2 separate regions of the Homo sapiens genome follow, and region 2 is reported to be linked to region 1. The links are microRNA targets in miRTarBase. Many come from high-throughput screens and were not tested one by one. Region 1 holds a microRNA gene; the other region holds the end of a gene's coding sequence.
What was found. Region 1 holds the annotated microRNA hsa-miR-183-3p (GUGAAUUACCGAAGGGCCAUAA, at 1,565-1,586, shown strand). A microRNA usually pairs through its seed, bases 2 to 8, with sites in the 3' UTR of a target mRNA and lowers its output. Matches are read on the target gene's strand: a 7mer-m8 pairs with bases 2 to 8, a 7mer-A1 pairs with bases 2 to 7 and ends in A, and an 8mer does both.

Region 2: miRTarBase lists ZNF267 as a target of hsa-miR-183-3p. Seed matches in the 3' UTR shown: 7mer-m8 at 3,760-3,766.

Annotation. Positions count from the first base shown.
Region 1 is chr7:129,771,141-129,776,513 of GRCh38, reverse strand. It overlaps MIR183 (microRNA 183), which reads left to right and starts at 1,500; the gene lies at 1,500-1,609. MIR96 (microRNA 96) reads left to right here and starts at 1,745; the gene lies at 1,745-1,822. RefSeq lists enhancers at 2,420-3,281, 5,008-5,373.
Region 2 is chr16:31,915,476-31,920,848 of GRCh38, reverse strand. It overlaps ZNF267 (zinc finger protein 267), which reads right to left. Exons shown (of 4, transcript NM_003414.6): 4 at 3,492-5,373. The coding sequence ends at 4,368. Among named protein-coding and RNA genes, the nearest start is that of ZNF267, 44 kb to the right of the region's middle.

The DNA of each region.
Region 1 (5,373 bases):
ACCCTAAGCAATGTTCATAACTACCCACCCCATACTCTTTGCTAACACCCTGCCATCACCCCTTCCCCTCCCCACCCAAGGCTGGGAAGTCTGGTCTCTCTTCCTTAGTAGAGTTCAGAAAATTGTAGTAAGGGAAACTGAGGCAGAAGGCTGAGGAGTGACTTCCTGAGATCACCACCTCATCAAGCTGGATTGTCCTCTGGGGAGATAGACCAGCTAGAAGGGCAGAGCCCTGTAGTGGGGGTGTGTGGGAGCAGGACAAAGAGTCCTCGGGAGCAGGAAGGGTGGAGCATTAAGCAGTGTCTAGGGGAGAGCGGATGGCTTTGGCCAAGGTACCCAGATGGAGCTCTGAGGTCCACGGGAGGTAGTTCCTGGGGGTAACATCGCCAAGAGGTCTGCATAGTTTCTGGGCCAGGGCACCTGCTCTGACCCTTCCAGGATATTTTCTAGCCACCCTGCCTTCTGGGCCACCGCTGACCTGGAGTAGGCTGAGACTCTAGTGGCCACTCTGCGGAGGCCCCAGCTTGCCTGCCCTGGGTGCCAGCTCCCCAGAGACCCTCCCTCCCACCCTCTCCCTTCTTCCCGTCCTTCCCCAGGGCCTGTGACACCAGAGGCAGGGCCTCCACAGCAACTTCTCTCTAGGCAGCTGCTCTGGCAACCACTGATGCAACCTTCCCAGCCCCTCCCTCGCTCCTGAGCCTCCGCTTTCCTCCGCAGTCACTCCAGAGCCAGCCAGGAGCCACTCCCTTGCTAGAGTGCATCCGTGCCTCCGGCTCCCTCCAAGCCACCTGGGTGGCTGCAGGACTTCTCTTCTGCCCTCCTTTCCTGGCCTTTTCCTGCCTTGATCCTAGGCCGGCAGCAGAGATGCCCAGCCTGGGCGGTTCACAGTCTGGCCCAATCTGGTCTGGTTTGGGATGGGAGTGGGGGTGAGCAGCAGATTCGGTTTGTTCCTGGGGCTCTGTTTCTGCCACAGGGCAGGCTGGGGGGTGGAGGATAATGGAGACCAAAGTGCCTAGGAGCCTGGGCTGCTGGTGTCTGGGCTCAGAGGCTACGAGAGGCATCTTGGATGTCCCACTGGTCACTGCCCCTGTGGCAGGTTGGGTAGAGAGGAGGCTCTGGCCAGCTGCTTGCCTCTCCGAGCCAGAGTTACTCTGGCAAGGAGATGGATGGTCCTGACCCACTCCCTCCCCAGCCTGGAGGCGCAGTCTGGGTGATGTGGAGGGATGTGGGCCTTCAGGTGGAGATAGGAGACACCTTGGTGTGGTCTTCTCCTCTGCAAGGCCAGAAGGTCAGCTCCTCTCCCGCACTGTCCCTGTCTCCTTGAAGGTCATCTTGGGCTGATGGGGCATGTGGATCTTGTGAAGAGGTGGGATGGGGTGGGGGGTAGAGACCGTAGCAGCCGCTGCTGAGGGCCTGCTGGGGGGCCCCCAAGGGAGTGGGCAGGCTAGGAGCAGGGAACGGGCATCGTGGGCCGCTGGTCTCTCCGCAGGGTCGGCAGGCCGCAGAGTGTGACTCCTGTTCTGTGTATGGCACTGGTAGAATTCACTGTGAACAGTCTCAGTCAGTGAATTACCGAAGGGCCATAAACAGAGCAGAGACAGATCCACGAGGGCCTCCGGAGCACCTTACCCACTTCTGCCTTGAGTGCTCCTAGACGTCGGAAACAGGCTGCTTCCAAGGGTGCAGGGATGCAAGGCCCCTCGTCCAGTGTGTCCCCAGAGAGCCCGCACCAGTGCCATCTGCTTGGCCGATTTTGGCACTAGCACATTTTTGCTTGTGTCTCTCCGCTCTGAGCAATCATGTGCAGTGCCAATATGGGAAAAGCAGGACCCGCAGCTGCGTCCGCCTCCCCTGCATCCTTGTGTCAGGGCCCCAGCCTGCTCCTCCTCAAGGCCTCCTCACCGCCTCCCCAGCCCATCTGGCTCAGCTGCTGTGTGAGGGCCCAGCGCTGGTGGGCAGCCAGATCGCCTTACACTGCCTGGGGCCACGGTAGAGCTGGGAGCCCAGCAATCTGAGCTGGGCCAGCAGATGGGGCCGCCCAGGGCAGAGGTGGGGGAGTCTGAAACCATCTGTAGGGCCATCCTGAATGGTGCCGTGGGTTGGAAAGGCCCAGCCAGGCTCCCAGCACACGCTTGGGGTGAGACCTTGGCTGGCAGCACAGGGCCTGGTCTTTTCTGCTGCAGGTTGTGAAGGGGGCAGCTCCAGGCAGGTGGGCTGCCCTTGAGGTCAGCCTGGGTGTTTCCAGGGGGGCTACCGTCTCTGGAGCTGTAGCCTGCTGTGGAGTGGGTCATCTCCGAACAGCTCCAAGAGGAGGATACTTAGTGGGGCTCGGAGTTGGAGGGCATTTTCAGGCCTGCCCCTAGAAGGTTCTGGAGCAGAGGCCAATGTTCCCCTTCACACACCACACACTGGTAATGTAGCTTCCTGGGTCCCTGGATCTGGGCTATGACTAACTGGCCTATGCTCTCCATCTGGGTGTCAGGTGACATTACATATATAATCCCAACAGTTCCCACCTCAGCCCTGTGGGGCTTGTAATTTTTTAAAATAGTTATCTCATAGATGGGGAACCTGAGGCTTTGAGAGGAAAGGCTTGGCTGAAGAGGTTGGTGAGTGGTAGAGCTGGGTCACTGTGGCTCTTCCGCCACCAGCCACACCTTCCATGGAGGCACCCAGGGCCTGGAGGTGTCTCAGCTCTGAATCTACAGGCCTGGGCTCCCAAGGATGCCCCAGATGGCAGAGACTGAGGCTGGGAGGCCTGGACCTAGTCTGTCAAAGCTGGGGAGAGCCTGGCCAGCCAGGCTGGACCCATGTGAAATCTGGTGGTCAGCAATCAAGCAGGAGACCAGTGGCCGACTTGGGACCAGCTGGGAGCTATCATGCCCCAGGTCACTGGGCCAGCCCCTGATGGGGCTGCTTCTCCCCAGGGAGCCTCAGGCAAGGGTTGGTGGACTTAGCCCAGATCAGTGGGAGTCATTTTAGGTGTCTGAGCCAGGGAGTGCCCGGGTGGGGGATGTGTGTGGTTGAAGCTGGCAGCTGGAGGATGACGGGTCCAGTTGACTGCACAGCAGGAACATGGTGACCAGTGCTGCCTGCCTGGGTGCCCTGGGGACTGCCTTGGGTGGGTTGGGCCTTTTTTTTCTTGTCAGTTAGCTATCACCAAACCGCGAGGAGCCCCCAATAAATTCCCTCTGGGGTGTGGTGCCCGTGTTTCTCTACAGAAGCTCTCCAAGCCCCTGCAGAAAAAAGGAGGGGCTTGTTTATTTCAGGATAGAAGGGGACTTCTGCCCTGGTGAGGTGTCCCTGTAGCTAGGTCTCTCTTCTGATGGCCCCAGCTCTCCCTCTGCCCCTCGGAACCTGGCTGGCCTGTGCCGCACCCTGTCTCTGTGCTCCAGTCCTCCGCCCCGGGTGCTTCCTTAGGGCGTCCTGCTGCAGGTCCCATGGGATAGGAAAGAAGGGATTTCCCGGCCTGAGTGAGAATGAGCCCTGGAGGTGGGGTGGGCACAGAGACCCAGCAAGGGGGGGTGGAAGGCCCCTGGCAGTGACCGGTTCTAGAGCTTTTCCCTGGAGCCTCTGGAGTGTCTGGCCAGGGTTCTGCTCCTTCCTGCCTAGCGGGGAAGGCCGGATGACAGAAGCTGCCCTCAGCCCCTGGGTGGTCTGCAGCTGGGCTCCACCTCCTCACACCTGCCCAGGTGGGCGCCTTTGCTGAGCCCCGAGTGCAGGCACTGGTGTGGGGGCGTGCCTCCACCAGGCTTCAGGCCCGGCTGCTCTGGGGCCCTGCTCCAGCGCTCCAGGGGAGGACCTCAGGCCAAAGCTAGTTTCTAGATCTCCTAATTTACCTAGTTCCGGGCCAGACCTGGGTGGTGAGTTCACCCACAACAGTGACTGTCCCAGAGAGTGGGGGCCACCACAGCTGGCCCTCCTCCCTAAAGACACAATTTCCTACCACCCAGGCTGGGGGCACTTAGGATAGGAGAGGGCCCCTCTTCACCTCCCCACCCTGCAGAACAGGTCCTGGATCCTCCCTTGTGTGGCTTCCAGAAGGTCTGTGAGATGGGCAAAAGGTTCTGCCCATGATCTGTCCAATGGTGTCCAGTGTCAGGCAGGAACGCTGTCCCACTGCAGCGAAGGCCTTTCTTGCTGGAGCGGGAGGGTCACTGAGAAGCACTTTTTGCTTTGTTTTTCTGTTTGTCAAAAGCAGCGGCTCCCAGATGCCCGGGTTTAGGGCGTCCCCCATGTCGGGCACCTTGCTTGGCCTGTCTGGGTGCGTGGAGCGGCAGGAGGGGCAGCTCCCTGGAGGGCTGTATGAGTGGGTTTTCCAGACTCCCCGCCTCCCCCACCACTCCATTTGCTTATTCATTCCAGGCCATTATCCCAGCCTCTGCCCAGCCTCAGGCGGGTCGAAATGCGATCCGGCACCATTGATCGCCTGCAGCCCCAGGCTGCCGATGGAGCCCGGCTGGTGCGGCCACAGCTGGGTGGGGAGGAGGACAGGACCCCCCACATACACACTGGAGGAGGGTGGGAGTGGCCTCCTCAGCAAGTCCCAGGCTTGGGGGCTCCATGGGACCAAGAGAGCCCAGTGCTGCTGATGTCCCAAAGCAGGCCCGCCCACCCTCGGAGAGGCTTCCAGAGTCGTGCCTCTGCTCAGAGGCCAAACCTTCCCCACCAAGCCTCTCCTTTCGGGCAGAGGTGTCCTCCCCAGCGCCCAAGCCCAGGCTGCCGGTCCGGTCTGGGTGCCACCGAGGTCCTGGACTTGGCCCTGGGGATGGCCTGGATCTGTTTGCATCTTAAGCCATCATCCCATCTCACTCCACCCTAAAGGGCAGGCAGGATGGGAGGGGTGGTGGCGGTGGCGGCGGCAGCGGTGTCATTTTGGGGGCCCTGCCAAGTCAGCTGCTCCCCCAGCCGGGGCATGTTCGGAAAATGAGCCTGCTCATGGTGGGCCCATACTGCCCAGGAGGCTTGAGGGCAAAGAGTCCCTTCCAGGCTGCAGGGGAGGCATGGGGATGCAGGGTTGGGGGCAGGCAGCCTGCACCCTTGCTAAAGGCTTGAGATGCCTTCAGGACACTTCAACACCCCTTGGGAAAGGACCTGGCCTCATCAGGGGAAGTGGGAACACGGAAGTGTGCTGCCCTTGGGTAAGTGACTGGCGGTCTGGGGAAATGCCACTCCGAGAATCAGATCGCAGCCAGCCCTCAAAGGGTCTGGGTGTGTGCAGGGCTGCTGGGTGTGTGCAGTGGGTTCTGTGGTCAGGAGAGTGCCGTCTGGATGGGAGATATTTGGTTGGTTTTAGCTTGGCCCATTCCTGCCACTGACTGATGGCCCCAGAGGCTGCCTGTTCCCGTTCCTGGGTAGAAGGTCCCAGCGCCA
Region 2 (5,373 bases), not on the chromosome of region 1:
GGCTAGATGGGCTTTTTAACGTAGTGTGTTTTTTAGATTACTGGCTTCAGGGTGGAGCCACTTAATAAATAAAGCAAAGGAAGCATGCAGTTTTTAGGGCTTAATATTTAAATATGTGCAAAGCAGGAGCAGCTGGAAGGCATAACACTTAGATTCTCCCAAATCAAGAATCCCATTTTTACATTGAATTCTGAGCCCCCAAAAGAAATGCCATGCCAGAGGACTGGGCAGTTCAATGATTCCATAGTGCACCTCAGTAGAGGGACATTCATTTGAGGTTGGTAGGCAATCCTATGCCAGCACACACTATGATTACTGCATCCCACATGGGTGTCTTACCCCTCGGTGGGGTGGCTTGGGGGCTGTTTCTGTAGCCTCTACATTCTAAACCATACTTTTTCTATCCAAACACCCAAAGAAATAAGCAACTCCCTAGAGTAATAAACATTTACTGTAAGCGACTGCTGTCAGCCCTCTAACACCATAGCTCTTGCCAGTGACTCACCAGCAATTACATCCACCTAGTCAAGTTCTCTCATAGTACAATGTAATCTCTGGTATCCCCCAAAGCCAAGGAGATCAAGTAATGCAATACAAGAAAGAGCAGAGTGTTAGACCTGAGAGGGATCTCTCTGCTTACAACTCTGAGGGCCTCATGAGAAAAAGCAGTTTCCTCCCAAGAGGAGGAGACTGTGACAACTTTTCTGTTTTCTGTGATTCTAGGCTAGAATTCTGTTAGAATTCTTTTTTTGGGGGGCGTTCCCCTCATGTGGCATTTGGAGTGGCAAGAGGAAGGACAGACAGAAGTAAATGGAGAAACAGAATTCATTTGACTTTTACAGAGAGAGGAGATCTTAAAACCATGCATATGTGTATGTACGTAGAGTAAATATCAGTTTTTATTAAGTCAACTTTGGACTATAGAGCTCTTTAAAAATCCTTTTCCTAACTGTAATTCCTACTCAAGTCATTATACTTTTGCTGCTAGCTGGACCTCTGTAGCCAAATGAGCAGCCATTACACCTTAGTCGCTGTTCAACACCCTTCCTCACTGCAGTGTGATAGACCACTCTCAGATAACAATCATGCTAATTCTGCCAGAAGTATCCTAACTAGAGGCCCTATCTTGAATAAAGGCCAGGTAAAGCCAAACCTATGGCCGGGCACAGTGGCTCGCACCTGTAATCCCAACACTTTGGGAGGCTGAAGTGGGCAGATCAGCTGAGGTCAGAGATTCAAAAACAGCCTGGCCAACATGGTGAAACCCTGTCTCTACTAAAAATATATAAATTAGCCGGGTGTGGTGGCGGGCACCTGTAATCCCGGCTACTCGGGAGGCTGAGGCAGGAGAATGGCTTACGCCCAAGAGGCGGTGATTGCAGTGAGCCGAGATTGCACCACTGCAGTCCAGCCTGGGCAACTCAGCGAGACTCTGTCTCAAGAAAAAAAAAAAAAAAATGCCAAACCTGCTGGATTACTTTCCGAGGGGGCTGGGCACTCTTGGTCACAAGATGTTTATGGTTGAAACACTGAGTTAATGATGTTAATCAACTAAATAAGAACTCAAAACTTAAGAAAATGTCCCAGTACTTTAAGAAAAAGCATTATTAGTTTAAGTATGTTTTGCTTTAAAAATAGTACTCATAAATTCTTGCTGAAATCAATAGTAACATAGAAAAGTAACAATACTAATAGCCTGTCATAAGCTGATTAGAATCCTCTGTAATAAAGTATACCATTCTTAATAACCTATATAACCATTTGAAATGGGTGCATTTCTCCTCTTGCTTTCTGAGGAAGGCCTACTCTAACAGAGGAGCTTTCAATAAACTATCTCTTCTCATTGCAAGGCATTCCTCTTCCTGCTTTCTGAGGATGCCCTACTCTGTAACTGAGTAGTCTCTAATAAACTTTACTACACTCTGCAACTCACCAAGAATTCTTTCCTGTGTGAGATTCAAGAACCCACTCTTGGGGTCTGGGACAAGATCATCACATCTCTTCTAGTGACTCTGCCAGGACTTGAATGAGGTGAAGTCCCAACTCAAAGGAATGAGGTCCCAACCCAAAGGAAACAGACTCTGCAGCACCAATGGGCTGACGCAAACTCTAGTTGTAAATTTTTGACAAATAAACCCTTACGACCTTCACCTAGTTTAGAAACAGAACATTTTCATCATCTTCAGAAAATTCACTCGTGTTTTGTCCCAGGCACCTATCTTTTCTTCCTCAGCCAGAGGCTATCAATGTGTTTATTTCACCATAGGTTTATTTTGCCTGAAATAATACAATACATAAATATACAAAACACAATTTTATGTCTACCTTTTTTCACTTACGAGGTCTATGAGATTCATATAGGGTGTGAGCTTTAGGCTGAGTTGTATTCTGTTATATGAATGCTATGCAATTAATTCAAACCACTGCTTTAACCCAACATCTTTTGGTGAACTACTTACAAACTGGCTCTCAAATGAATGTAAAACATTTGCTGCTAAGTTGTGGCCTTTCAATCTTACCTGCCTTATCTAATCATTATTAAGATAGTCACTATGAGAAAACTATTCTCCAAATTATTGAAAGTTTAAGTCCTCCAGCAAAAGGAATATTAGGGAAGACATTTCACTGTTAACCCATAGTATATTATTTCCATCTGTTAACCACAATCTTAGATAAGATGGAATAGTTTAACACTGGTGTCAGTACAACATTTCATTCATTGTACATCAGTGTTAAAACATGAAAAACCAACTCATTTTATTAAAAGAAATTAAGTTCACCCATAGTCTACAGCATTTTAAAATCCACTATATTCTTCCTGGTCAAAATACAGTTACAAGTACTCAAGAAGCATTCTTTTTTTCCAATATACTAATCTTGCAGTTCTGTTTTCTACGTTTTTTTAAAGTGAGGCTAATTATTTAGTGAATGTTGATAGGAATTATCTTCACATTTCCCTGATACAGGTGAAGATGTTATTCTCATCACATCAAATACTCAACTTTTTCACTATGTATTCTATCACATCAAATAATACTAAAGACTCCTACTTTATTCTGTTTTAAAGATATGTTAGTACTTCAACTCAGTGGTCCTAACCTTTTTGGCACCAGGGATTGGTTTCATGGAAGACAATTTTTCTACAAACTGGCAAGGAGAGAGATGGTTTTGGGATGAAAATGTTCTGCCTCAGGTCATCAGGCATTAGTTGGAGTCTCCTAAGGAGCACACAACCTAGATCCCTCACATGCATAGTTCACAATAGGGTTTATGAAAATCTAATGCCACCACTCATCTGAGAGGAGGCAGAGCTCAGGTGGTAATGCTTGCTCACCCACCACTCATGTCCTACTGGTGCAGCTCAGTTTCTAACAGGCCACAGACCAGTAACTGGTCTACAGCCTGGGAATGGGGACCTCTGCTTTAAATGAAGTCTTTTTAAAAAAAAAAAAAAAAAAAAACTTATGGAGGAATTGAAGTAATTTCAAAAATTCAGAATATCCCTCTTACTTTAATATAGAAAAGAGCTCTAAACACGTATATGTTTACATGCATTACTACTTTATTCAAACACAAAGAGCATATTTTTAAAAATTTTCATGTGTTTTACATTTGGCATTAAACTTCCATGAAAAATGCTGATATTAATGATATTAACGTAGAATGACCTCACATTGTTCTGATGCAGAAAAAAAAACAGAACACATATTTTCACATGAACACCACGGATTAAGGAAAAGCAGCAACAGATTTGAAAGCTGAATTATATAAATAATATTTGCTTTCCAAAAACCTCAAATACTGTAAATACAAATGAAGTATCTATGAAATATACCTGTCAAAACATCAATGTTCTTGCTACTTTAAAACATATAAGCAAATAAATTATCTAATTATTTTGCCTTTAGATTATTCTGTACAAAAAATACTCTTATTTAGTATAAAGGCTGAAAGTGTCTGTGCTTTAGTCCTTTCTCACATAAATTCTCTGACACATTTAGACTTCATTTTTTATTAAATACTTCCTCACATTTATTGCATCTGCAAACTTCCTTTTTCTATGAACCCCTAGGTGACTCATAAGTTTGATATTTTGAATAAAACTTTTCACATTTTTACATCTATAGTGTTTCTCTAGTATGGATTATCTTGAGTAAGGGTTGAGCACAGTTTAAAATAATTTGCCACATTTTTAATATTTGTATGGATTTTTTCAGTTTATATTCTCTGCTATTGTGTAAGGCTTGAAAATAGTTAAAGGTTATGCCACATTCTTAACATTTGTAGGGTTTCACTCCCATATAAATTATCTGATGCACAATAAGACATGGGTAACAAGTAAAAAATCTGCTCCATGTTTTACATTTTTAAAGTTTTTCTCTAGTATGACTTCTCTGATGTGCAATGAGGTATGACCTAGAGTTAAAGGCTTTGCCACATTCTTCACATTTGTAGGGTCTCTCTCCACTATGACTTCTCCGATGTGTAGTGAGGTATGACCTATAGCTGAAGGCTTTACCACATTCATCACATTTGTAGGGTCTCTCTCCAGTATGTCTTCTCCGATGTGTAGTGAGGTATGACCTAGAGTTGAAGGCTTTGCCACATTCTTCACATTTGTAGGGTCTCTCTCCAGTATGACTTCTCTGATGTGTAGTGAGGTATGACCTATAGTTGAAGGCTTTGCCACATTCTTCACATTTGTAGGGTCTCTGGCCAGTATGAATTCTCCGATGCTGAATAACATCTGAACTATAACTAAAGGCTTTGCCACATTCTTTACATGTATAGGGTTTCTCTCCAGTATGAGTTCGCCGATGCACAGTAAGACCTGAGGAGTCACTAAAAGATTTGCTACATGCTTTACATTTGTATGGTTTTTCTCCAGTATGAATTCGATGATGTCGAATAAGGTGTGAACTATAAGGAAAGGCTTTGCCACATTCTTTACATTTATAGGGTTTCTCTCCAGTATGAATTCTCTCATGCACAATAAGATTTGAGAAACAAGTAAAAGGTTTAGCACATACTTTGCATTTGTAAAGATTTTCTCCAGTATGAATTTTCCGATGTTGAGTAAGGCAAGAACTACGGCTAAAGACTTTGCCACATTCTTTACATTTATAAGGCTTCTCTCCAGTATGAACTCTCTGATGCATAATAAGATTTGAAGAACGAGCATAAGATTTGCTACATACTTTACATTTGTAAAGTTTTTCTCCTGTATGAGTTGTCTGATGTTGAGTAAGGCATGAACTACGGTTAAAAGCTTTTCCACATTCTTTACATTTATAAGGTTTCTCTCCAGTATGAATTCGCTTATGTTTAGTAAGGTATGAACTACAGCGAAAGGCTTTGCCACATTCTTTACAT